5 separate regions of the Homo sapiens genome follow, and regions 2, 3, 4 and 5 are each linked to region 1. Evidence: fine-mapped expression QTL. A gene starts in region 1. Each other region holds a variant in brackets. All regions are shown on one strand. Distances are from middle to middle.

Region 1 (5,105 bases):
ATGGTGGCTCATGCCTGTAATCCCAGCACTTTCGGAGGCTGAGGCAGAAGGATCACTTGAGGCCAGGAGTTTGAGACCCTGGGGGAAAAAAAAAAAAAAGGAAAGGAAGGGAAGGGGAGGGGAGGGAAGCGGAGGGGTGGGGAGGGGAGGGCAGGGGAGGGGTGGGGAGGCGAGGCCAAAGGAGCCAAGATAAATCAAACCACCAGGCCCTTGAATGAGCAGGTCCTGGATAACTGTTTAGAGTCCAGCAGTGAAGTCTCATTTAAAAACGGCAGAGGGAGAGAAAGCCTCTAAAAGGCAAGGGATAATGTAGAAAAGTAAAAATAGGTTTTAGAATAAAAATGCCGTTTCAGACAAACTGCCACTCTATATTTGCAAAAACTGTAAAAGAAGTTATTTATTTGGCCATGTAGAAATAAAGTGCTTTTAACAGCAGCTAACAATAGATCACGTGAAAAAAATTACATACAAGACATGTGTGTCGGGAATGTCTTTATGTGTTCAAAAGGAATTTTGCATGTGGTATTTTATATATATACACATATTATTTGGACTTATAAAATACCCTATGTAATGAAAACTATGCATAAATATTTATAAAAATACCTTTTTCTAAGTAGGCCAGGAACATTTAATATTTTTCAATAAATTAATATATAAAATATATACATTAGTGCCAAATGGAACATATATTTTGAAATATGAAACCCAAGTAAAATGCTCAGGAATCTGGAGTAGAATCCAGGTATCTGCCAAAGGAAACTTTGGACGAGTTGTCTTTTGAAGAAGGGAAACAATGCTGGGTCTCTTATCTTCACGGACTGTTTTTGCTTGTCAAACTTCTAACATCACTTCAGCCGAGTTTCGTATTTGACTTCCAACCTCATGGCCATTTGACCTGCCAACTACTATTTTTCTTTGAGGCTTTTAACACCCCACCCAAGTATTTTGCTTTCCAGATTGTGTGCGTTTCCTTTTCACTTCACCTTAAAGTCAGCCTGGGTTTACAACATCGGCTTAAGGCGCACCCTCTAAGGTTTCAGACAGACCCAGGGCACCGCGGTGATGACCTGAAGCTGATATCTCTCGGCAAAGCCAAGGTATCCGGGAGGTTCTCCGCGTTGTGCCAGGATTTCCATCCAACCCGAGAGTCTCAGGGCAGAGGCCAGGCCCCCAGCGTCCGACTCCCAGGGGTCCCAGCCCCCTCCCCTGGCTGACCATGCGGGCTGGGACCTCCCAGCCGGAAAACACCGCCCTTTCCTGTCGCCTACTCCTTCCCCAGGCCGACGACTCGCGGAGGAGGAAGAGACGGAGGCCGATTAAGAAAATTAGCATTCATTAACCCGGTTCACGCTCCGGCCCCGGCGGAGGGGAGGGGCGCGCCGGGCGGCGGCGCTGGCGGTGGCCGGGTGACCGGCGGGCGCAGGTGCCACCGCGGCCTGAATTTTACTCTCTCGGGCCGGCAGCTGCGCCACTTGCGCCTCGTCGCGCGTCTGGGGCAGCCGCCACCGGCTTGCCCCAGCTTTAGGCAAATCCTTTTGAAAGACCCTGAGGGAGAAGAAACGCCTCCCTCTGGGTAGGAGAACCTGTAGCGTCTGCTGTTCGTCGCGTGTCCAGTTGCTCAGCCGGGAGCTCCGGCATCTTCAGGGCGCTTATTCCACTCTCCGGGTTTTGGCTGCAGCTCTGAGGGGAGCGAGCTAGAAACTGACAGAACGCGACCCTCCCCCTCCGCGCCCACCGGAGCCCGGGCTGAGAGGGACCTGGGGAGCTGCGGCCTGGCCGGGGCGGCGCACTCAGGTGGCCTCGCTTCCCTGCGGGTCACCGCCCGCCACTCGCACAGCTAGGTCGGCCTGTTGGGATCGGGAGAGGTGGGCGCACGAGTTTTAGTGCGGGAGTCCGGGGTGCGGGCGGAGTCCTATTGTCCCCGTGCACCCGGGCGGCAGCACCTCCGGGTCCCTCTTTAAACCGAGCGTCCGGCGACCTTTCTTTGTGCTTAGGGAGTCGAAAGCGGCATCTTCTCCGAGAGAAGTCGCCTACTGGGGGGTGGCGCTGGGGAGGTAACAATGGGCGCCCATTGTCCTCCGAGGGTCCAACGGTGACCCCCCCCCGCGCGCGCGCCCGGCCACCGGTTGGCCCCGGGCCAGGGCACAGGTACCGCGGCTGGGAGGGTCGGCCCCGCTGCCCGCGCCCTCCGCCCCGCCCCAGTGAGTCCCCGCGCCGCCGGCCCCGCCCCGCGCCGCCCCGCCCTCCGCAGGTTCAGTCCTCGCGTCCGGCCGCCCCGCGCTCAGTCGCGCGCACCTTCTCTCGCGGCCGGGGGACCGCAGCGCGGGGCTAGCCCGGAGACCCGGCCACCGGCCTGGGGCGCCTTCACGCCGTCTCGGAGCGGATAATGCGGTGAGCAGGCACCACGCCGGCAGACTCGGCTGGATCTGCGCACAGCGGCAGGGATTGCGTGCGCCCGCGGGAGGCCCGGGGCAGCGGCTGGGATCCTCAGCGGCGGCCGGTGAGTCGGGGCAGCCCAGGGCTCCTTCCTCTCTACCTGTCTGTGAGTCTGTCCCGCCCGCGGCCGTGGCCGCTTCCGGCGTGCGCTGGTGTTAGGCTGGGAAACCAGCAGGGAGTCGGGATACCCAGGGCATCGCTTTCCCATCTAGTGTCCAACGGAACGAAGGGGACATAAAGCAAGCCAGGAGGGGGTCCGGCGGCACGACCAGGACTCAGAGCTCCACCATTTGTGCCCACTACTTTTCAGGGTGGGGCTGCGCGGCCACATTGCACCCTCCGAGCTATTGGCAGAGCCATTCTGGGCGCGTATAGCATTTTTCCATCTGAGAACAAGCCGCGCTTGGCTACCGCGCCCCTCGCATCATGGATTGGTACCAGGGCCGCACATGGGTGCATCGCACAGCTCTGCCGTGGCATCGCCTGCCCGGTGCCCTCCTCTTTCTTAATGGAGGACATTGTTAGTGGGGCGCCAACCTGCAGATCTGGATATTGACTTTTTTGTTTTTTGACGGTGAACAGCTGAGACGTTTACAAGGTTTTTTGTTTTTTGTTTTCTTCCCTTTCTCCTTGAAACTAAGTGGCTTGACACAGACAAGTATCAGACATGTGAGGATGAATGGATCTGGCCATTTTTTCGTTATGAATTATTATACTCTATCCCTCTCTCGACTTTGGGAGGCATGTGTTTCATCTTATAAATAGAAAGTAGCATATTTTTGGGCAGGATCTCCTTTATACTGTGCAGTCTAGGAGAGGTCAGTTTAAAAATAAATATGCACTTGAATGTTACATTACTGAGAGCCAGGCTGTGGCTGGGACAAGCTGCGTGGACAGCAGCATCAAAGCCGGGAGCGCAGCTGTGTTGAAAGGAGTAAAAGCCCCAGAGTGCAGCCTAGGCTGACAGTCAAGTAATTACATTTTGTTTAAAAAAAAAAAAAAAAAAAGTGAGCGAATTAAAATGAGGAATGTCAGGAGGGTATTGCAACATGAATCTTTCCAGCCCTGGCGTATTTGGAGGAGTGGGCTGCTGCTGTGTGCTGAGGTTGTAGGGGGGCTCTAGGGAGGGAACTGATGAATGTGTTAGGGAGACAAAGATTCCATCCCCATCTCCCAGCTCTTAATTCTCACAATATCCAAGAGTTTCTTGGGAGTACTGCCTTTTAAAAGGAACAAAAATTAGGAGAGCAGCAGATGTCTGTATTTTAATAGCAAAGCCAGTTTTAGGGACTTCCTGTTAACATCACAGGGAGAAAAAAGACTCACCAGGAACCAGCGATGATGCCCCAAAGGTATCCCTAAGACAATTTAAAAGGCTCCTGTAATGTTCTAATTTACACAAGCTCTTTCATCTTAAAACCAGGAAATGTACCTTCTCTTCTTTTCTGGACAGTTCCAGAAGTCTACTCTTTCATACCCCCTGCAATTTGTGTGAGCTCTTATTGGTAGTTAATAAGCTACACAGGTATGTGTGTGATGCATACCCTTTTCAGAATAGATTTAGACACTCAGAAATAAGTTGGAGTAGTTGTGAAATATTTAGCATTTTCATATGTGAAATAAATGATAAAGGCCCTTTCTATAGTCAAGGAATGGTTGAAATTCTTCATAAAGTCTCCCAAAGAATGCGGGTTTCCCAATGGGCCTCACCCATTTGAATAAAACAGCACCAGCCTCTGGGCTCACAGATAAGAACTTTAGAGGAGAAATTTGGAAGCATTTCTGGATCCATGGCAGTTTCTGTTTTCCAATGGCATCATCTGCTAGAGATTTACATGATGAATTCTATGATTAGAACATGGTGCTGAGGCTGTGGCAGCAGCTACAGGCTTGAAATGAGATGAGCTCCTCTTTCCCTCAATCTGAGCAGTGAAATTGTTTCACGTATCTCTATGGAACAAGTAAAAGCAGCTAGAGTAATAAGTGTTGCACACTTTTTGCTTTTTATTGCACATTTAAGTGCGGTGCAAGATGAATAAATACAAAGCCGTAACAGTGATTGCAGAAGGGCTCACATGAGTTCATTTGCCCTGTCTGCGCTCCAGCCTTTCCTTTAATGTGGTGTTTTGTTTTATGTCCAACATGCTCACAAAAGCTGTGCTTTTTTCATGTATAAAGTTCCTGGTATTCAACAGTGTTGGGGATAAAATTGCTTTCACCTGTATCACCCAAAGATTTTTTTTTTTTTTTTTTTTTAGCCAGGCCATAGATTTTTCACAAATTCTTTGACCATTAACTGTAACATTTATCCAGTGGGTGGAATATAATTCGTAACCTAAAAACCTCCAAGAAGACTGCTCTGATCGTATTATTATTATTATTATTGTTATTCAGATTCTTGCTTTCAGTCAGATTTTATCTAGGCCCAGTCTCATTTCTTACTAACCAGAATCCTGTGAACCTGTATTTCTTTTCATTGATTGAATGAGAAATCTATTTTTAAATGCAGTATGTTTGCCAGAGAACAAGGATAGCCATTTGAAAATACTGGATTCAGCCAGCCACAAAATCTTGTGTGCCTCACCAAGCCATAGAAGACCAAGAATTTTCCTAATATATTGCATTGTTCATTACTTTGGATGTTAAAAGCACTTCCTAAGTGGAGC
Region 2 (5,105 bases), 160 kb before region 1:
TGTTAAAACAGATGTTCCTTCAACACTCACATCTTAGGTGGCCACTTTCACGGGGTGGAAAAGGATAATCTAAACCTTCCTGTTCTTGCCAAAATAACCATGTGTAGGTCTTTGTTCTGCACATCTCTGGAACACACAAATAGATTTCCAAGCAGTAGGAACCTCCTGTCCTGTTCAGTTGTTGGACAAACTCTTGTTCTGCCCATTCCACCCTAGTTTCCTGAAATCCTGGCTGTAGGGCTCCCATGACTGGAGCCTGTGAGAGCCTCCTTTGTCAGGAGAGTTTTCACAGCTAAAGCCATCAAGGCTGGCAGTGAAGGACACTGGGCTTCAAGCCCACTACAGTGATGACAGGTATTGCCTTGGCTGCCCAAGCTGAGTGGTCGCCCCTCTGCAGGTCTGTCTGACTCCATCCCAGGGAAGAAGGCGGTGGAAGGTACCCATGGGCTGCAGTTGGCTCTGCCTGGCCGTGGGGGAGGATGGCAGAGGACTGACCTCTTGCTGCCTCAAAAGGGTGGAAGTTGTTTTGCCCTTTAAACTGATAAAGAAACAAGCTGGAACAGTAAAACTAATCCTCCGAAGCAATCCAAGCATGGAAACCAGAAATGTCTACTCAAATCTTTTCTCCATTTTCTTTCTTCATAAATTCGGAACATTTGTGGCAGAAAGAGAAATCAGAAAAAAAATGGATTTAGAAAAGAGAGAGAAGTAGTTTAGAGGGTTGTATAGGGAGGCAACATGATAAAGTTGGAAGAAAAATGGACTTGGAGAGAGAACAGTCAAATCTGGGCCTGCCTCTGAGTGCCTGTGTGGCCCTCGGCAAGTTTCCCTTCAACTTGAAGACCTGGGTCTCTATGATCCCTTTCAGTTGCAAGATTAAGACCTAAGAGTTCTTGCTTATATAAACAGAATTCTTCCAAGGCCATAATTATTTCCATAATCAAGAACTATTTATTAACTAAGCACCAGTGTGTGATTTTCTCAAGATAAGAGCAAGAAGAAATGGTCCTTACAGGCTAGATAGCTGTGACATGGACCAACAACTAAGCATATCTAAAAATTCGACTAATTCATAATATGAATTCAAAATATGAATTGAATAAGCAAAAATATATATACCATGGGAGTTGAATGTTTTGACGGGGAAAATCCAGACGCTGACTTTAGGATGGTACTTTCTGTTTTGATTGATCCTGAGCCACACTGGACTCTCTGGCATGGGCATAACCCGAGCATCTGCATGGCAGAGTTCTGGCTCATTGCCATTTGCAACAGACACGAAGGGTGGCATCAAACAAAAGGAAACTTCTCCGTTGACCATCATAAATGATGAAGACCAAGGCTTCAACTCACTTACTGGAGTGGATTTCCTTTTACGGATGGCCTTGGTCACCCTGGGGAGACTAAGAATGTTTAAGTAACTTAACAAACACTCAGTAAGGAATGGGATCAGGATTCTTCTCCAGGGCTAACAGTTTTAACTGCCATTCTACATTTCCTGCCTGAGACAGCTGCCAACCTGGGCTTCTGTGACTGCCACTCCATGCTTCTCAAGCCAGGGTGCACGTTAGACTCATCTGGAGAGCTTGGTAAAGCCATCCATGTCCAGGCTCACCCACAGAGTCCTCAGTTTTCTCAGTTTGAGGAGGGGCCTGGGTACCAATACTTTTTAAAAGCTCCCTCTGGGTGATTCTAAGTACAATCAGGGTGTCAATCACTGATGTCCATAATGAAAAGTGTCAGACTCCAAAGCAAACTCAGGAGGACTGCCTTCATGGTATGGATCCCTGGCAGATTTGAACCTTAGAGGATTAGGCTAGCAGCTTGTGGAAGCGGATGCAAATCTTCCAATCCTCTAAGGGCAGATGAGCCTCTGGACTCATGAGAACGCTGGTCTTGGTAAAAATCCCCTGCATACCACAGGCCTCCCTTGGAGAAATCACCTAAAGAAACACCAGGAAGAATTCATTCTGGCCTCAAATAGTTACATGGATGTTTGTTACAAGAAGACACATTTAACCATTGAAGTTCCTACTCATTGAGTGAACCGTGTCTCCCTCCTCTCTGGTTTCCAGAAACAAGGATTTTTTTCTAAACTCCTCTTACTTCTTGCCTCATGGCTAATGCCCACGGAGGTGGGGTGAGTGACCTGCTGGTAACCAAGGGAAATGAATCTGCACAGGAAGCCCAGGCCCTCCCTCCCTCCCTTCTCATTAGAAGCCAGCTTCCCCTGGAAAACAACCACATTCTGCTCTACTTTCTCATGTCTATGTGGCCCTCCCTGAGT[G/A]GGAAGGCTTAAGTTTTGTAAGATTCATCATAAGTGTGGTGATATTTCCTAATTCCAGGGAATGGAGCTAGTCATGCCACACATCTTTGCTGTTTTCACGAACTGAGGTAATTTTTATTTTTATTTTTATTTTTTTGAGGAACAGTCTTACTCTGTCACCCAGGCTGCAGTGTAGTGGTGTGATCACAGCTCACTGCAGCCTTGACCTCCTGGGCTTAGGTGATCCTCCCACCCTAGCCTCCCATGTAGCTGGGACTAGAGGTATGTGCCACCTCACCTCCTTTTTTTCTTTTCTTTTTCTTTTTTGGAGAGACAGATTCTTCTTATGTTGCTATTTTAAACTCCTGAACTCAAGTGATCCTCCTGCCTTGGCCTCCCAAAGTGCTGGGATTACAGGTGTGAGACACTGCACCCTGCCCAAGGTAATATTTTGACCTTCCTTTACCTTATTCTTTGTCCATCTCTTAATTAGTTTATAACTTAGACGGGAAAAAAGAGGTGTCTAAATAAATAAATAAATAAATTTATTTAAATAAATATTAAATAAATCCCATCAGTTCCCCATAGAATGCCATTTTCCCCTAGCTGTCTATTCATGTAACAAAACGAACAAGAAAACACTACAAATTCTCTCCCTATTTATACTGTCCCACCATTATGTTATAACTCTCATTATAATGTTTTAGTTTTTCCTTGAAATAATAATCATCAACCCATTTGTAAACCATATGTTTCTACCCACAAGTGACAACCAGAATTTCAGGATTAATTGCAAGAGCCATAAAGAGCTTTTTGGTCATTTCCCTAAGAGCCTCCATGAATAGTAACAAGGGCGAATAGTAACCCCCGGCTTCAGCTGTCCCCACTGCTGTGGCAGGTTATGATACTTTCTTTCCTAAAGTAAAGGCCAAGACAGATGGCTTTTCAGGACTTCCAGAGTCTGTATGACATAAGAAGCTTATTCCAGTAAAGGGAACAAGACCCTTGTCATCTGACACCAATGAGATGCTCTTCCCTTGGCTGGCAGGGATCTGGAGGAGGAGGAGCAGATAACCTTCAGCCTAAATAAGCAATACCATCATTATTCTGGAATCTCTCTGAAGTATGGTTGGTTACAGTGTGGAATTCCACAGGGCACGTGCCTGTCTTGGACTCTATCCAAGGGAGTAAGTTATCACAAGGACCTCATTATAACAGGGGCTCCAGGGACAGTGTCAGTCAGCAGGCTTCAAGGTAGCTGCTAAAATTCTGGTGCTGGTCTGTTTAATCACTGCATGCTTGTTAATACAGTCAAGCCTCAGTTACAACAGAATCAACAGCCCAGTTTGTCACTCATCCATTCCTTGTTCCGTCACCGCCTGGTTGAGTTTCTGGCTTGTTTATGGGGCAACTCTGGGTGTCGGGCAAAATGAATGCCTCTTGTTTGAAATGCCTAATCCCGAGGTTTTTCACCTATGTGTTGTTTTCTCCCACCAGCACCTCTGCTCCGTGCCATGCTCTTGGCTAATTGGAGTTGTGAAAGGCATGAGGATTCTGGTCATGGACTCAGCTCTCCCATAGGGTTCTGACACCAAAGCAATGGTCACAACAGTGAAAGGAAGAATCCATCTGGCCAGGCTCAGGTGGTTCAAGGCCTTCAGAATCTGCCTTGAGACTCTCACTGGCTTTAGACTGAAAACCATCTTGGCCCCGTCCATCCGTGTAAGCAATTTAACGACAGCTTGCAAAGCACCGAGCTTTAACAGAAAGAAGAGATGAGCACAGCGCAAGAACTTGGACTCCAGAAGAGCTGCCTAACAGATTATTTTTCTGTGGCATTTCATGAGAACAAACGAAGTAGGAATTTTCCTTTTGTTTGTCTGGCCTTTGGCATCGTTTACTTTCTTTTTATTCTTCTGAAATGTACTTCGAGCCCTGGCAGCATTTCTGTCCTAAAATCTTATTGTCAGAGGTTTATTTTTCAGCTTTTCAAATCATATCTGATAGAGTGAGTGTACTGCCTGGACTCATCACTTTACTTCAGAAGAAATACAGCTCACCCTTTAAATGACAATGGTGACTGTCCACATCTTTATGTTTTCTACACTGAAGTGGCAGGCTTCATTTAAAAATAATGTTTTCCCTCATCAAAAGAGAGCTAGGGTAGAACCGTCAACTCTGCTGTTGTCTGGGTAGTGACCTAACACCCACGTTTTGGACAATCACTCACTGTCTTATATTGGGTTTTCATTGCATGTAGGATAATTCTTTGTCAATGGTAGTTTTGTCAACCGTGATCTGAGGTAATGAGGTTTTCTACTTTTGCTTGAAATTTTGAAAATATGCAAGCTTTAAACATTTGCAAAGTTGGATTCTGTTTTCTTTAGAAAGCAATCTGATTTGCTGATATTCTCTCCATCTGTCAGGGGATGCGTGATGTGGTGTAGACTTAATGTGCTGCCTTTCTGGAACATGGACAGAGTAGCAGCACAGAAAAATGAGCATTTCAGCTCTGTGATGATTTGTGAAAAAAAATCTCAGATCATTGAGCAGGCATTTTGCTGACACCTGTGAAAAGTAACCACATGAGAGAGCATGGCGTGATGGTCGGAGGCCACGTGCTGGAGCTGGACTGCTTGAGTCAAATCCCAGCTGCTCAGCTGTAGTGAACTGAATGGTGGTCCCCAAAAGATACATGTATCTCCTAATCCCTGGAACCTGTGAATGTGACCTTATTAGGCAAAAGGGTCTTTGCAGATGTAATTACATTGAGGCTCTCAGAGATGAGAACATCCTGGATTATCAGGGTGGGTCCTATATCCAATGACAAGTGTCTCCT
Region 3 (5,105 bases), 97 kb before region 1:
CATGAGACTTATTCACTTTCACGAGAATAGCATGGGAAAAGCCCGCCCCCATGATTCAATTACTTGCTACCAGGTCAATTCAAGATGATATTTGGGTGGGGACACAGCCAAACCATATCACATGGCATCAGCAGATGGCTAGACTTCCTGAGCAGAGCCAGGGACTTGCCTGGAAGGTCCAGACCCCTCTGAGTTCCAGCTTCCTTGTGGAGTTGAAAGACACTCCAGTGTGTGTTACACTTGGTATCCTACTCAAGAAATAGTGAAAAAAGGACATTTACACCACTGGGAATAAAACTTGGGTGTAAACATGGTTCACACTTTACAGCTGATGGGTCAATTATCTGATTAATATGATTGATCATTTATCATAATGTAACACATTATGTCACATACCTTTTTTTTTTTTTTTTTTTTTGAGATGAAGTCTCGCTCTTGTCACCCAGGCTGGAGTGCAATGGCATGATCTTGGCTCACTGCAACCTCCACCTCCCGGGTTCAAGTGATTCTCCTGCCTTAGCCTCCCGAGTAGCTGGGATTACAGGCCTCTGCCACGACGCCCGGCTTGTTTTTGTATTTTTAGTAGAGATGGGGTTTCTCCATGTTGGCCAGGAGGGTTTCAAACTCCTGACCTCAGGTGATCTGCCCATCTCGGCCTCCCAAAGTGCTGGGATTACAGATGTGAGCCACCGCACCTGGCCTCACATACCTTTCTTAAGCAGAGTTTTTAATGTTTATAAATCTTACCTCCTTAAGAACAATTAAGTTTCCTGAGAACAAAATCGGTCACTACAGTGGTAGAAAGGATATGGGTTTTGGAGTCAGACAGAGCTAGATTTGAAGCTCGGTTTTATCATTTCATGGCCAGGTGCTGCCATGATTATTTTTTATGTGTCTACTTGCCTGGGTCACATGGTGCCCAAATATTTTGTCAAACATTATACTGGATGTTTATGTGAGGATATTTTTGGATGATATTTAACATTTGAATCAGTAGACTGAGGAAAGCAGATTGCCCACCATATGTAGGTGGACCCCATCCAATCAGATGAAGGTCCAAATAGAGCAAAAAGGCTGACCCTCCTCTAAACATGATAGAAACTATTCTGCCTGATGACCTTTGAACTAGAAGGAAAAATTAGTTGTTTGCTGCCTTTGGACTTGAAGTGTACCTGTACCTCAAGCCTGCCCGCCTTCATACTGTAACTACACCATTGGCTCTCCTGGGTCTCCAGCTTGTCAACTCACCCTACAAATCTTGGGCTTTGCCAGCCTCCATAATTGTGTGAGCCAATTCCTTCTAATCTCTCTCTCTCCCAGTAGTTCCTTTTCTCTGGAGAACACTGACTAATATAGGCACTTCTGTATTAAGAGCATTCTGAACAGCATTATGTTGCTAGGGCCCTGCAATGGGAGGCACCTTCTCACTTTCATCACCTGGAACCTGCTCATCCGCATGACACAGAGGAGGTATATGTGACATTTGTTCACCTGCTGACCCCTTTGTCACAGTGTCCCCTTTTCCGTGGGTACTTCTGTCCACATCCTCTCCTAGAGTGTTTGCCTCAGAAGTGCTTGAGAGGATTAGCATCCAGCAAAAAGTAGGCTCTGCAATTAAGGCTCAAATTAAGAAAAACAAATGAGTTTACACTGGCCTTGGGTATTTCCAGTAGCTGGAAAATCCCACTGTTGGAAACCTACTGAAGTCATCTCAATACAGTATTTTATAGATCCTGCAGCAGCAGGAGATGAATTAACCCGAGAAGACCATAGTGGCGGGGCAGAAAGAAAGCCTGTCAATGACCAGATCTTTTAAAAACAAAATGGCTGTTTCTGTTTTGGTGTATGTGTGGTTGTCTTTATTTTGGATGCTAAGGCGCGTTTCTTTCCCCCCCCACCCCGCCGAGAGTTTCAAGAAAAGAGAGCCCCATCTTCAATTCACTATCCAGGCAAACAACAGTGAGCATGGCTCCTCTTCCAAGATCCCACTCCAAAAAGTGACACCAGGTTTTTGACACAGACAGCCTGTGGGCACACTGTAAAGAAGTGGACTTTGTTTTGACAGGGGCCTGTGGAAGCGGACTTTTAGTGCTCAATCCCTTAAACACATAGTGTTATGAATATGGCTTTGACGATTGTTAGCAAAAGTGGATTTGTCACACAGCCATGAAACCAGCAGCTGTGTCTTTGCCACAGAGTTTGACCCCATCCTGCATATAGACAGGCATCGTGTGTAATTACTCAGCATTTGCCACACAACACAATAAACTCGGGGTCTGCCCACTGGGGACATTTATGTGTCACAGTGGACTGGATTAGGACCGAAAAAGAATAGTTGTGGTGTACGCTCCATCCCAACTGCTCATTCCCTCTCCTTGACCTACCCTTTGTGGGAAGCCAGGAATGCTAAATATTTCTTGTAGCTCTGCCCAGTCCTCTACTTTATTTACACTCCCCCCAACTCCCCAGCCTTAGCCCTGTCTCCTCCTGTGGCAAGCTCAGGCTTTCTTCCCTGAGCTGTTGAACAACTACATTTTTTGTCTGAGATGATACATCAAAGGTATTTCAAATAAAGAAAGACAAAAACATAAAATGATGTCTGCTGGACAGCCAGCCGTGCTCTGGCAAGGATAATATGCAATCTTACTTAATGGACTTCCTGATATTGACAAACTGTACCAAAGTTTCTAGGCCAGAGATAAAACAACTTTTTTCAAAAAGTGAAATAAGATAGAGGCAGTTGAAGGAACAGGAGGTGGAAGATTGATGGGGAACATTTTTAAAGAACCCACGGGCCACTCTGTATGTTTGTTTCCTGAAGGGCAAAATTAAGCCCTTAGAGCAGATCTTTCATTTTTTGGTTTCTTTTCTAATTCTAGAATCTCCTCTAACCACAATGGGCAAGACAAGTGGGAATGTGACTTCCCCTAGAGTTATTGCTACACATTTGTGAGGACATTTTCTTCAACAAGTTTGTTTTTCCCCAAAATACATTTCCAGGCAGTATAACCCTAGAGGT[G/A]GAGCCTCAGGGAAGCTACACATGCTTCAAGTGTGCAGTAATTGCAAATTGCTAAACAGAAAAATACAGGTATGGCCATGTGTCCAAGTCTTTGTGGGGCATGCTCCACTCATGCCTGTTGACCTGGCATGATTATTAATAGTTCTCTCTTTCAAAAATGTCCAGTTTGGATAATAAATTCTATGAACACCCTGACTTTCACCAAATGTACCATTTCTGAGGTCCATTTCAAACATGGTGTACAAATAACTGGTTCTACAGCCGGTCTGGTGGTCAGCCTGGCCCTGCTGAGGGGAGGGATGACATCTGAATGCACAGCCAGGTGGCACGGTGGTCTCAGAGGCTACAGTGCTGCTAGCCCCTTGGGGTAGGTCCTGAGCTTGGCACCCCGCTGCTGACTGCATGTTGCAAATGAGATTTTTGTTTTAAAGCCCTAGACTTGAAAAATCAGACACTTGGCTTTTGAACAGAAGGCAAAGCAGATATCTGGGTCTCTTCTTCCCCACCTCAAGTCCTCATTGTCATGGAGACTCCTTAACATCTGTGAGTGGATATGACCCCACCAGCTGAGGCAGGCTTCTCTTAGCCCCATTTTCCCTCCATGATGGGTGGAACATCCTTAGGTAGAAAGAAAAACACCCAACATACTTTTATTAGCAAGTGTCAAAAATGTATCAGAGAGTTTTCTCTGATGTCCATGCTTATCCAATCAAGCTATTTGCAATTCCATGTGAGTGTGGGGTTGGAGGTAGGAGGTAGATTTTGGAGACTGGGGAAGAGGAGCAGAGAAGGGGTTGATTTGTGGTGTATCCTCAAGGCATGCACTAAATATTTGACCAATGAGTATGTGAATAATTGCATCTGTGGAGGAGATTTTTGTCCAGTCAATAAATTTTAGCATATTAGAGTTTTGCTTATCTTTAACAAAAATTCATAGTAACATATGCACTCATTTCCAGACATTTTTTCCTAAAAATACTACATTTGGGTGTGTTTCATTTTACTCCTTAGGCAAAGCTGATTTATAATTCTGACAGTGCACCTACAAAATGAATATGAAAAATGCCCTGTTTGATTTGTGTTTTTTATTTTAACTGGGATTAATTTTAAATGAGTTGAGAAGAGACCTGTGATGTTGCAAAATGCCTCTTTAACTTCCAAGTTAACCATGATATTGATGGACACAAGATAGATGCAAGGTCTATAATTAAAACTTGTCTGCCAAGTCCCACTCTGTTGAATTTGGGGCGATGTTGCATGGAAGCGATGGTTTTGGTTAAACTCTAGGTCTAAAAGAAAAATAAAATAATAACTTAATTGTCAAACCTATCCACATCTATTTGCATATGCCATATGATTTCTAAATAGGGTAAGACACAGGAGCATTGAGGAAATAAAAAACCTGTTGGTTTTTAATGCGGGTGTATCTTTCTTCCCTGTTTTGTGCCTGGGCTAATGGGCCGATGGTTAAACAGTGGAATATTTAGAATTGGAGAACTTATCAATGGACTTAAAAAATATCTCTGAATCTTGTAATCTACTTTGAAGAGATCCTCTGAACAGAGGGCATGAGCTAATTCAAACAAGGAATGACCTCAATGAGAAGAACTGAAATAAAACTCAAATAGTGAATATACACACTCACATGCTGGTGAGCTAAACAAACTGAAACTCAAGTTTTAGGCAGTTTACAATCAGAGTATATTTGTTTGATAAACAGTGTTTGGACAGAAGCTTTTCATATCTTTTTTGCTAGATACTTCATCATCTATTATCTCCTCTTTTCAAAGAATGCCTCCATGCCATTGCTGTGGAATTCAAGACACAGCTCTGTTTACAGAGTGAGCTGGTGCTGACGGCCTGCCTCCCGTCAACTCCTCCCCTTCCTTTCACTAATTAACATTCTTGACATTTGACTTGACAGTCGTATTTTAGAGGGTTCAGACACAATTCTTGTAAACAAAAATAATATTCTTGCTGTGAATTCTTACTCTTTTAGAAGAAAGAAACTGGTGCTGGTGCTGTTTCCAAACTAAAACAAATGCAGTTGATTTTGTCAGTTACGAGTTTTCTAAGATTTTTGTTG
Region 4 (5,105 bases), 24 kb after region 1:
CTTAGCCCAGAATGTTCAGAAAGGAGAGAGAAGGAAGTGGTCAGTTCGAGAAATTATGGGCATTGGATTATCAGCGTTGGATTGACTCTCCTGGGATCAATCATGGTTGCCCCTGAGCTGGGGAGGAAGAGAACAGATGCAATAGAAGGACTAGATCAGAGCTGCCAGATACTTTCCCAGCAGCACAAACGTCAACTTACCTAGAGTTGTAAAACTGACATTTTGCCCAAAATTCTTAACTTTCAGGGTATTTGGGAGCTGTTAGGATTGGCAATTCAGATTCAATTCAAATTATTTTTTTCTATAGTCCTAGAAGCCTATGCCCCATCATGCAGTAAATATGATGTAAATATTTGTAGAAAGAAAGCAAAATGCCTCTGAAGGTATCTTCTCCAGTATCTCCTACTCACCAGAATCTCACTACAGCTTAGGTAGCCTCCCCACCAACCCTTTTCTTGCCTTTTTCTTTGCTGCTTCCCTCCAACCTTTGCCTCCATGCCACCGACATGAAGCCCCACTTCAAGCAGGATGAGTGAGCCTCTGGTTGGAGGCCCCTGGTGCTGGTGCCTGTGGCTGGGCAAGGACTGACCAAAGGCTGGGGCTTGACGAGCATCTTGCTCCCTGGTGGGTGCCCAGCCCCCACCAGCCTACCGACTGGGCCCTCCCTCCCCTGCACCCTCAGCAGCACACACTTTCTCCCCCTTTGCTCTTCCTCCTCACTGTCCCAAATCCTTGTTTAATTCAAGGGTGTATGTGAATGATCCAGTCAGAGTGGCAGGGAACTGCTCTCTGGCTACATTTTCATGGGATTTTTTTTTTTTTTTTTTTTTTTTTTTTTTTTTTTTTGAGACAAGGCCTTGCTAGGCTGTAGTGCAGTGGTACAATCATAGCTCTCCGCAGCCTTGAATTCCTGGGCTCAACCAGTCCTCCCACCTCAGCCTCCCAAGTAGCTAAGACTGCAGGTGTGTGCTACCATTCTCAGCTAATTTTTTAAGAAAGTTTTTGTAGAGATGAGGTCCCATTATGTTGCCCAGGCTGGTTTCAAACTCCTGGACTCAGTCAGTCCTCCTGCTTCAGCCTCCTGAGTAGCTGGGACTACCGGCGGGTGCCCCCATGCCCAGCTAATTTTTTTTTCATAGAGACAGGGTCTTGCTATGTTGCCCAGGCTGACCTCAAACTCCAGGCCTTAAGTGATCGATTTTTTTTTTTTTTTTTAAATAATTGGAACCCCCTGCCCTGGGACCTGGCCTTGCATAACCCTGCCTCCATCAGCTGACCCCAGGCAGCCCTGGCATGCCCTTGAGTTGTGGTGGACACGCTGTATCTTTCCATGGCAGCTGCCTTCCTGGCCGTGTGTGCTGAGGACACCACTCCTGTGGGCAGCTGTTCCTCAGGCCACCCAGCTGCTCCTGCAGGCAGTCAGCCACACTGTGCCCAAAGGGCAGGGAGGCCACCTCTGAACAGCAGGGGGCCCGAGGCCAGGACTAGGCATTGTACACTCATACAGGAAGGAAGTTCTGATGTTTTAACAGGAAGAACATGGGCTTCAACTTTTGTTACCACAACAAGACCCAAATTAGAGCTAAAACTATGAGAACGAGTGTCAGGACCCACGATCATGTCATTGCTGGCAGCCCCATGGTCAGCCCACTCTGCATGAATGCAAACCTCCTCGTACTTTCTCTGCCTCCTCCCCATACCCAAAGCCCGAGTGGGGCTGGCTCTCTCTAGTGCATTGTTCTCAGCCTTCTCCGGCCTGGGTTGCTGGCCAGCATGCTGACACGCTGAGCTAGCTGCTTCCCAAATTGAGTTAGCTGTTACTGAGCCAGTGGGTGGTGGAGCACAGTTCTTGTCACCTGCCACTGGTAAATGAATTTAAAACTCTTGCTGAAAGGAAAGAAATATGGGGCAGATGCAGACAGCCTCCAGCTGCTACAAGCAAATGTGGCTCCCTTCAAAACACCAACTAACCCACCCAGCCCTTGGAGTATTTATTTGCAGGCTCTGCAGCCAGTGGGAGGAGCGCCTGAGGGAAGAGGTCATGGCAGAGCCATTTGGGAAGTTCCTGCAGTGGGAAAGGGTTTAGCTTCTCTGTGTCAGCATCAGAGGTGGAGGATTATTTTCAAGAGATAAGAGCATCTCATTGGCAAAAGAG[C/G]ACATTACAACCCCAATGCCTTGTAGCTCATCCCTCCTAATCTTATCATATAGTATGTGCAGGGAGGATGTGTTGCTTTCTACACTGGTAACAAACGACCACAAACTTGAGGGCTTACAACATTTACCATTTCACAGGTTCTGTGGGTCAGGAATCTGGGCAGGGCTGAGTTCCAGCATCTCCCTGAGTTATGATTCAGTGTGGGTCAGGGTGGTGGTCTCATCAGAGGCTCAACTGGGGAAAAGATCTACTTCCAAGCTCCCCAACATTGTTGGCAGATTTCATTTCCATAGGCCCTTGCACAGTGTAACTGCTCACCTCTCCACAGCCAGCAAAGGGAGTCAGGGAGTCTTCTCCCTTGTCAGCTCAGATGAAATCTCCTATAATGTAACCTAATCAGGGACCTATTGCCTTTGCCACATTCCCTTGTTTAGAAGCCAGTCACAGGTTCTACTCACAAAGGCATTAACACCAGGAGGCAGATCATGGGGGCTCCCTTCGAATTCTGCCTACTGCATGGAGGATATAGCCTTATCAGTAATGTTTCAGAAGTGTTCCCAAGTGAAGGCCCAGCCTGTAATAGAGATTCACAATGTTTTCTCTTTGAAGTGAAGCAGTTTTGTTCATTTCCTCCCATCTCAGAATGACTTCAAATCCTGACATCCTCGACAGCCCAATACTTTGCCACAACCTGATTACAACTCTAGCTCTCTTATTTACTGGCTATATGTTATTGAGAAAAGGTAACTTTCTAGGGGAAGGGCTTATCCTGAATCTCCGTTTTCTTATCTGTAAGAATGTATTCCACTAACATTTTTAGGACAGTAGCATATAATAGTTATTGTCACTTATTAAATAATTCCAGCACCTTTCCTTTAGGACTGTTCATTTTATTGCATTAACTTATGTACATATGGAACTCAACAATGAAATATTAGTGTTGCTAGTATGCACATCAAAGCAAAAGGAAAATGTATTTTAAAACAAATCCAGTTGTATTTAAGGAGCTGAAATCACTGATCCTATGCTTACAGCAATTCTTAGAGGAAAATGACTAAAACCATAGACATGTCCAGAAGATGTGCCCATGGCTATGTCTAAAAAGTACTGGTGTCATAGATATGGGGTTTTTAGGTCTTTCTCTTTCCTGTTTTCTCTAAGATGAAAATTTTTATCCACTTACTGGAGGGAAACAATAAGTTCAGCATTAGTTGAAACTGGCCCTGCCATTATTTACAGGCTCTTGTGAAAAGGGAGGCCCTAGGGCACCCAAAAGGGTCTTTAGCTTATAACCTGCTTTGGTTTCTTCTGCAGGTTTGTCCTGGTTGTGGTCAAGACTGGATGATGTAACTGGCTCTCTAGGAAGCCTCACTTGGCCGTAACCTCAGGAAGGTTCTCTTTGACCCCATCTCATTTCGAAGCCACTTCTGAAGCCACTTGAGAAAAATGATGTGACAGTTCCTATCAAAAAGGATTCAGAAACATATACCATCTGTGAAGAAAGTGGCCCTTTCTCCCGCTTGCAAAATAGACATTCTCAAATTCCAAAATGCCAGCCAAGACCCCAATTTACCTGAAAGCAGCCAATAACAAGAAAGGAAAGAAATTTAAACTGAGGGACATTCTGTCTCCTGATATGATCAGTCCCCCGCTTGGAGACTTTCGCCACACCATCCACATTGGCAAAGAGGGCCAGCACGATGTCTTTGGAGATATTTCCTTTCTTCAAGGGAACTACGAGCTTTTACCTGGAAACCAGGAGAAAGCACACCTGGGCCAGTTCCCTGGGCATAATGAGTTCTTCCGGGCCAACAGCACCTCGGACTCTGTGTTCACAGAAACGCCCTCCCCGGTGCTCAAAAATGCCATCTCCCTCCCGACCATTGGAGGATCCCAAGCTCTCATGTTGCCCTTATTGTCACCAGTGACATTTAATTCCAAACAGGAGTCCTTCGGGCCAGCAAAGCTGCCCAGGCTTAGCTGCGAGCCCGTCATGGAGGAAAAAGCTCAGGAGAAAAGCAGTCTGTTGGAGAATGGGACAGTCCACCAGGGAGACACCTCGTGGGGCTCCAGCGGTTCTGCATCTCAGTCCAGCCAAGGCAGAGACAGCCACTCCTCCAGCCTGTCCGAACAGTACCCCGACTGGCCAGCCGAGGACATGTTTGACCATCCCACCCCATGCGAGCTCATCAAGGGAAAGACTAAGTCAGAGGAGTCCCTCTCTGACCTTACAGGTTCCCTCCTCTCCCTGCAGCTTGATCTTGGGCCCTCACTTTTGGATGAGGTGCTGAATGTAATGGATAAAAATAAGTAACAAGATGCCAACTTTTTTCCTTTGGGGTAAAAGGTACAAAAACAAACTAACCACAGTTGAAGAGAAGGGCTTCCGGAGCTGTATTTGCAGTTTTGTGTTGGGTTTTCTAAAATAATATTCTTACAAAGTATTTTTTTACCTGTTATGCCCTGTTTGCAAAAACAATTTAGAAAAAAACAACAAAGCAAAACCTATCTTGGCAAAAAAAGGAAGTGAGTCAGAGCCCATTTTCAGGAGGCATTGGTGATGTTCGGCTCACATATTGTTTGCAGACACACAAGAAATCTGGCTTGGCCAGGATTGGCACTAGCTATGAAGGGCTGAGCGAGTCACATTAAGGAACTTCACGGAACTTTATAGCACTCCGACATTTTCTGAGCAAGAGGAAGTCAAAATTTATTTAACACCTAAGCCTTTTTGTAGACTCTTTTCTATATATTGCTTAGGCTCACCATAGCGAATTCTCCAGTGTTAAAACTTTTCTGTTTTCACATTTGAACTTTATGGGTTTTGGGGATTTTCTTGTAGTTCTTATATATCCCTATATATTATATCTATATTGCAAAATTTTGACTGTCAGCTACATGTTGGTAAGACACAGGCAAAGTATTACTGTAACTAAGTTATTTTTAAAGT
Region 5 (5,105 bases), 28 kb before region 1:
AAGAAGTCATTATTCGAAAAAGATACTTGCACATGCATGCTTCTAGCAGCACAATTCACAATTGCAAAATCGTGGAACCAACCCAAATGCCCATCAATCAACAGTGGATAAAGAAACTGTGGTGTATATATACACATGATGGAATACTACGCAGCCATAAAAAGGAATGAATTAACAGCATTTGCAGTGACCTGGATGAAATTGGAGACTATTATTCTAAGTGAAGTAACTCAGGAATGGAAAACCAAACATCATATATTCTTACTCATATGTGGGAGCTAAGCTATGATGCCACAAGGCATAAGAATGATGCAATGGACTTTGGGAATTGGGGGGAAGAGTGGCAAGGGCGCGAGGGATAAAAGACTACAAATATGGTGTAGGGTATAACGCTTAGGCAATAGGTGCACCAAAATCTCACAAATCACTACTAAAGAACTTACTCATATAACCAAATACCACTTGTACCCCAATAACTTATGGAAATAATTAATTAATCAAATGGCACAGTATTCGCATATAACCTATGCATATCCTCCTGTATACTTTAAATCATCTCTAGATTACTTATAATACTCAATACAGTGTAAATGCTATGTAAATGTTTGTTATACTGTATTGTTTAGGGAATAATGATGAATAAAAAGCATATACTTGTTCAGTAAAATAAAATAAAATAAAATAAAATGGCTTTCTATTTTAGGGCATTTATCTGTTGTTGAACTTCTTAAGTCACATGCTCAGCTACAATACCCGTATTGGTAGCATTCAGTAAAAATAATCAGATTTCAGAGGGTTTTAGAAGTTGGATTGTATAAGGAAAAAGCATCTATTCTAGAAATTCATTTTACTCCTGCAAATGACTTCAAAATTATTTCTGAGTAACAAAGCAGTAGTTAATTTATGTGGTTCTCAGCATTTATGTGTTTTCTCGACCTCTCTATTTTTCCTTACTTTGTCTCCATTACCAGTGTAGAAGAAAATTTGAAATATTCTGGTTAATTAAATGTGAACCTTCTGGTTAACTTTCTGATTGATGTATATTTTTAGATAAAATCATATAGATGGCTATCTTGGAGCCAGTCTGGTTTCCACTCACCACACAGCTTGTAGAGTTCATGGGGACTGCTGCCTGGAGACCACATCACAGACTCCAAAGTCACTACCAATATTAACCGCCCTTGACTGGAGTCACCCAAAGACAAACTCAGACTCTGTCCTGCCTAAAGTCCTAAATTCCATGGAAGATCCTTAAGGCCAGCTGACCCTACCAAGACAAAAGCCATGTCTTCTTCACTCACCAGACCAAGGTGACTGCTTGATGATGATGTTGCTGATGCTCCCTGACTGTCTCATACACTGATTTCATGGGACTCTAAGCCTCCTGTCTCTGTCCAATCACTCTTCCCCCACCCCTGCCTCCTAGCTATCAACTGTGTCCTCTGGAACTTTCTTTCCGTGACAGCCCAACCATCCTACATCTTCAATCTCTTTGCAGACACTCCCTTCACTTCCTGACCTTAACTGAAACCTGGTTCGCCCTTAAGAACATGGCATTCCCAAATAGCCTTCCCCAGTTGAAGGTATTCCTCCATTCACTTGAATATCCTCATAGGTACCTCCAACTCAACAAGTACAAAATTGTACTTGTCATCTTCACAACATCATCCATTCTCTTCCCCCACCTCCATGACACAACGACGCAAAAGTTACCCAGTCTCCCAAAGCAGGAATCTGGCGGTCAACCTAGACTCATCTTTCTTTTTCATCTTCCATATTCTATCACCACCAAGTCTGACAATTTTTCCTGCTAAATAGTCCTCTAATCCATTCCTTCTCTGTGTTTCTATTATCACAGTCCAGTTCAAGGCCTCAATTATCTCCTGCCTAGATTATCACACTCTTTTCCTGCTTTTAATTTACTCAGGAAATCCATCCTCCACCTGGCTGCCAAAGGAATTGCTCTAACACAGAGTTGACCTTTTCTCCTTTTCTCCTCTGCCTGTGGTAATCCAGTGACTCTTCCAAGCCTGGCTGAGCCCCTTCTTGGGAAAAACAGGCCCTTCATTATCTGTCTCTACCTACCTCCCCAGTCCTAACTCTCCCAAATTGCTACTATCCACTTTATACTTTAATAATACTAAACAACTTGTCCTTCACTGCAGTAATCCTGCTAAAAATGCTCCTGTGCCTTCCTTTGGTCTGCAATGCCCTTTCCCACTCTAGCTCGTTCTTTGACTGGTTGACTCTTACACACTAAGCTTTGAGTGGTGTCATCCTACCCAGGAATCATTTCCTGAGCTATCCTGCCAAGCTCTACAATCTCCCTGAGCGCTCCCAGCATCCTACTTTTGGCTTGTATTATCCATGTGAGTATGTGTATATTTCACCCTGTGTCTATTTTCCTGGGAGCCACAGACTGAATTTTTTAAATTTTTTACATTTGCATCTGTGGCTCTAACAAAGTGACAGGAGGAACATATTAGGTACTTAATAAATATTTGATGCACCAAAATAATTTCCACTGAAAATGGATTTGTCAAGCCCCAGTAGTCTTCATGTATGCAGGCATTCATTTACTCTTACTCATTCAGCAATAGAATACCTACTAAATATTTATATCTTATTCATCTAGCATTCTTGACCTCTCTGCTGTTTAGGTATGCTGTAACTTTTTGAAATGCCTCAAATTCAGTTTCACTCAGAAGCACTCTCGCATGTGAACTACAGTGTCTGGCTTGTGGAAAATAACTGATATAGGTGATCTGAGAAAAGGCAAAACTAGGACTGCCTGTGTCCCAGTGGAATTTACAGTCTGAACTGACTATGCACATGTGCAGTGTTTGGCAATACGTAGTTTTTGAAAACCTTTCAGCAAATGTAAATTACTAAAACACAAACCAAATACCTAAATTTCTAGAGAAACTGGAGAAAAAAAGAATGGTCAGAACTGGGTCA[G/A]TTTAATCAGAAACAGCTAGATAAGGTGAGGTTTGTTTTTAATGTAAAGACTTTGTGAACATGAATCACTTAACAGGAAGGAAAATAGCATTTCAGTTTCAAGAAATGAAATAGGCAAAAACAAACAAACAAAAAAGAAGATAAAAGCTCTATTGAAAAAAACCAGCAAGCCCATTTACTAGACTGAACGACGAATCTGAAACAGCAGAACAGGTTGTCAGTATGCAAGACCTGCATAAAATACATCTATGAAGCTGAAATTAGTCTTTAGGGCCAAGTGTGATAGGGAGTCTCCAAATCGATGCTTTCCTCCCTTCTTCCCCTGGATGGGCATAGTTTTTTGAACACTTCTGAGATATTGTAGTAATTATATTTTATTGGTAAAAATAACAAAGTTCAGGCCGGGTGCGGTGGCTCACGCCTGTAATCCCAGCACTTTGGGAGGCCGACGTGGGTGGATCACGAGGTCAGGAGATCGAGACCATCCCGGCTAACACGGTGAAACCCCATCTCTACTAAAAAAATACAAAAAAAAATTAGCCGGGCGTGGTGGCGGGTGCCTGTAGTCCCACCTACTCTGGAGGCTGAGGCGGGAGAATGGCGTGAACCCGGGAGGTGGAGCTTGCAGTGAGCCGAGATCGCGCCATTGCACTCCAGCCTGGGCGACAGAGCGAGACTCCACCTCAAAAAAAAAAAAAAAAAAAAAAAAAAATCACTAGAATGCAATACAAATAGTGAAGCTTTAAGGGCAATGACAGGCAGATGGAGGAAATATTCAGCAACCAAGAAACTTGCCTCTGTTTCAGCTAATATACCATGAAATATTAGGTTAGATATGGGAGAAATGTAGAGCCTTCCAAACTGTAAGTTCTTGAAGGACAGGTTTCAGGTTTACTGTATGGGTATTTCTGCCATAATGCAACACAGACACAGCTGAAAACCCTGAGGTTTGCAAAAATTATGCACAAAGATGTAATGGGAATTATGGAGCTAGCTAAGGACACTGAGACCCAAGGAATCAAAAGTGATAAGCCCCCTGGGTTTTCTTTTTACTTCATATATGTCAGACTGAAGAAGCCAGCAATCCTAGAAACGTTGACGGGTACAGACAGAAAAGCCCCCCTAAAACGCCTGCTCCTTTTAGCCAAAGAACAAAGAAAGGGAAAGTCTAGAAACACAGAAATTGAAAATACAATACCAATTACAATTGCTCAAAAACTGGAATACTCTGGTATAAATATGACAAAATGTGTAAAGCACATGTACGCTGGAAACTACAAAATGCTAATAAAAGAAATAAAAGAAAATCTAAATAAATGGAGAGATATACTGTGTTCATAGATTGGAAGACGCAATGTAGTAAAGAGGTCAATTCTCCCCAAGTTAATAAATACGTTTAACACAATTTCTATCAAAATCTCAGCAAGTTTTTGTTTTAGATGTAGACAAGATTACTCTAAAATTATATGGAAAAGCAAAGTAACTAAAATAGCTGAAACAATTTTGAAAAAGAAGAATAAAATGGGATGAATCAGTCTTCCCAATTTCAAGGTATGTAATCACGACTGTGTGGTATTTACAGAGGAATAGACACATAGATCAATGGAAGAGAGTAGAGAGCCCAGAAATAGACTCACACAAATACACCCAACTGGTTTTTGACAAAGGTGCAAAAACAAGTCAATGAAGGAAGGCTAGCCTTTTCAACAAATGGTGCTGGAGCAATTGGACATCTAAGGACAAACAATTAATACTTGACATAAACTCATACCCTATACAAAAATTAACTCAAAATGGATCACAGACTTAAATGTCAAATATAAAACTATAAAAGTTTTGCTTAAAAAAATGGAAAATGTGTGGGATCTAGGGCTAGGAAAAGAGTTCTCAGACTTGACTCCAAATACACAATTCATTTAAAAAATGATTAATTAGACTTCACTAAAATTAAAAATGTTTGCTTTGTAAAAGACTGTTGAGAGGATGAAAAGACAAAGTATAGGAAGGGATAAAATATTTGCAAACCACATATATGACAAAAGTGCTAGAATCTAGAATATATAAAGGACTCTCAAAACCCAATGGTTAAAAAAAATTCAATTAGAAAATGGGCAAAAGACATGAAAAGCCATTGTAAAGTGTTCAAT

What was found. PIP is the estimated chance that this variant, and not a neighbour inherited with it, causes the effect.
Region 2: its variant is fine-mapped to the expression of CDC42EP3 in whole blood (TOPMed, PIP 0.99).
Region 3: its variant is fine-mapped to the expression of CDC42EP3 in whole blood (TOPMed, PIP above 0.99).
Region 4: its variant is fine-mapped to the expression of CDC42EP3 in whole blood (INTERVAL, PIP 0.99).
Region 5: its variant is fine-mapped to the expression of CDC42EP3 in whole blood (INTERVAL, PIP above 0.99).

What each region holds. Positions count from the first base shown.
Region 1 is chr2:37,668,824-37,673,928 of GRCh38, reverse strand. CDC42EP3 (CDC42 effector protein 3) reads left to right here and starts at 2,287. Exons shown (of 2, transcript NM_006449.5): 1 at 2,287-2,503. RefSeq lists silencers at 1,309-1,478, 1,699-1,768, 1,779-1,838, 2,009-2,498.
Region 2 is chr2:37,826,537-37,831,641 of GRCh38, reverse strand. PIRAT1 (PU.1 (SPI1) induced regulator of S100A8 and S100A9 alarmin transcription 1) reads left to right here. Exons shown (of 4, transcript NR_110012.1): 3 at 2,604-2,709; 4 at 3,764-5,105. Among named protein-coding and RNA genes, the nearest start is that of PIRAT1, 47 kb to the left of the region's middle. The variant G/A (reference allele first, on the strand shown) is at 2,288.
Region 3 is chr2:37,765,982-37,771,086 of GRCh38, reverse strand. All of the region lies in intron 2 of LOC107985869 (a long non-coding RNA gene), which reads right to left. Among named protein-coding and RNA genes, the nearest start is that of CDC42EP3, 97 kb to the right of the region's middle. The variant G/A (reference allele first, on the strand shown) is at 3,020.
Region 4 is chr2:37,645,187-37,650,291 of GRCh38, reverse strand. CDC42EP3 (CDC42 effector protein 3) reads left to right here. Exons shown (of 2, transcript NM_006449.5): 2 at 3,470-5,105. The coding sequence starts at 3,705. The coding sequence ends at 4,469. Among named protein-coding and RNA genes, the nearest start is that of CDC42EP3, 24 kb to the left of the region's middle. The variant C/G (reference allele first, on the strand shown) is at 2,156.
Region 5 is chr2:37,696,612-37,701,716 of GRCh38, reverse strand. No RefSeq gene overlaps it. Among named protein-coding and RNA genes, the nearest start is that of CDC42EP3, 28 kb to the right of the region's middle. The variant G/A (reference allele first, on the strand shown) is at 2,959.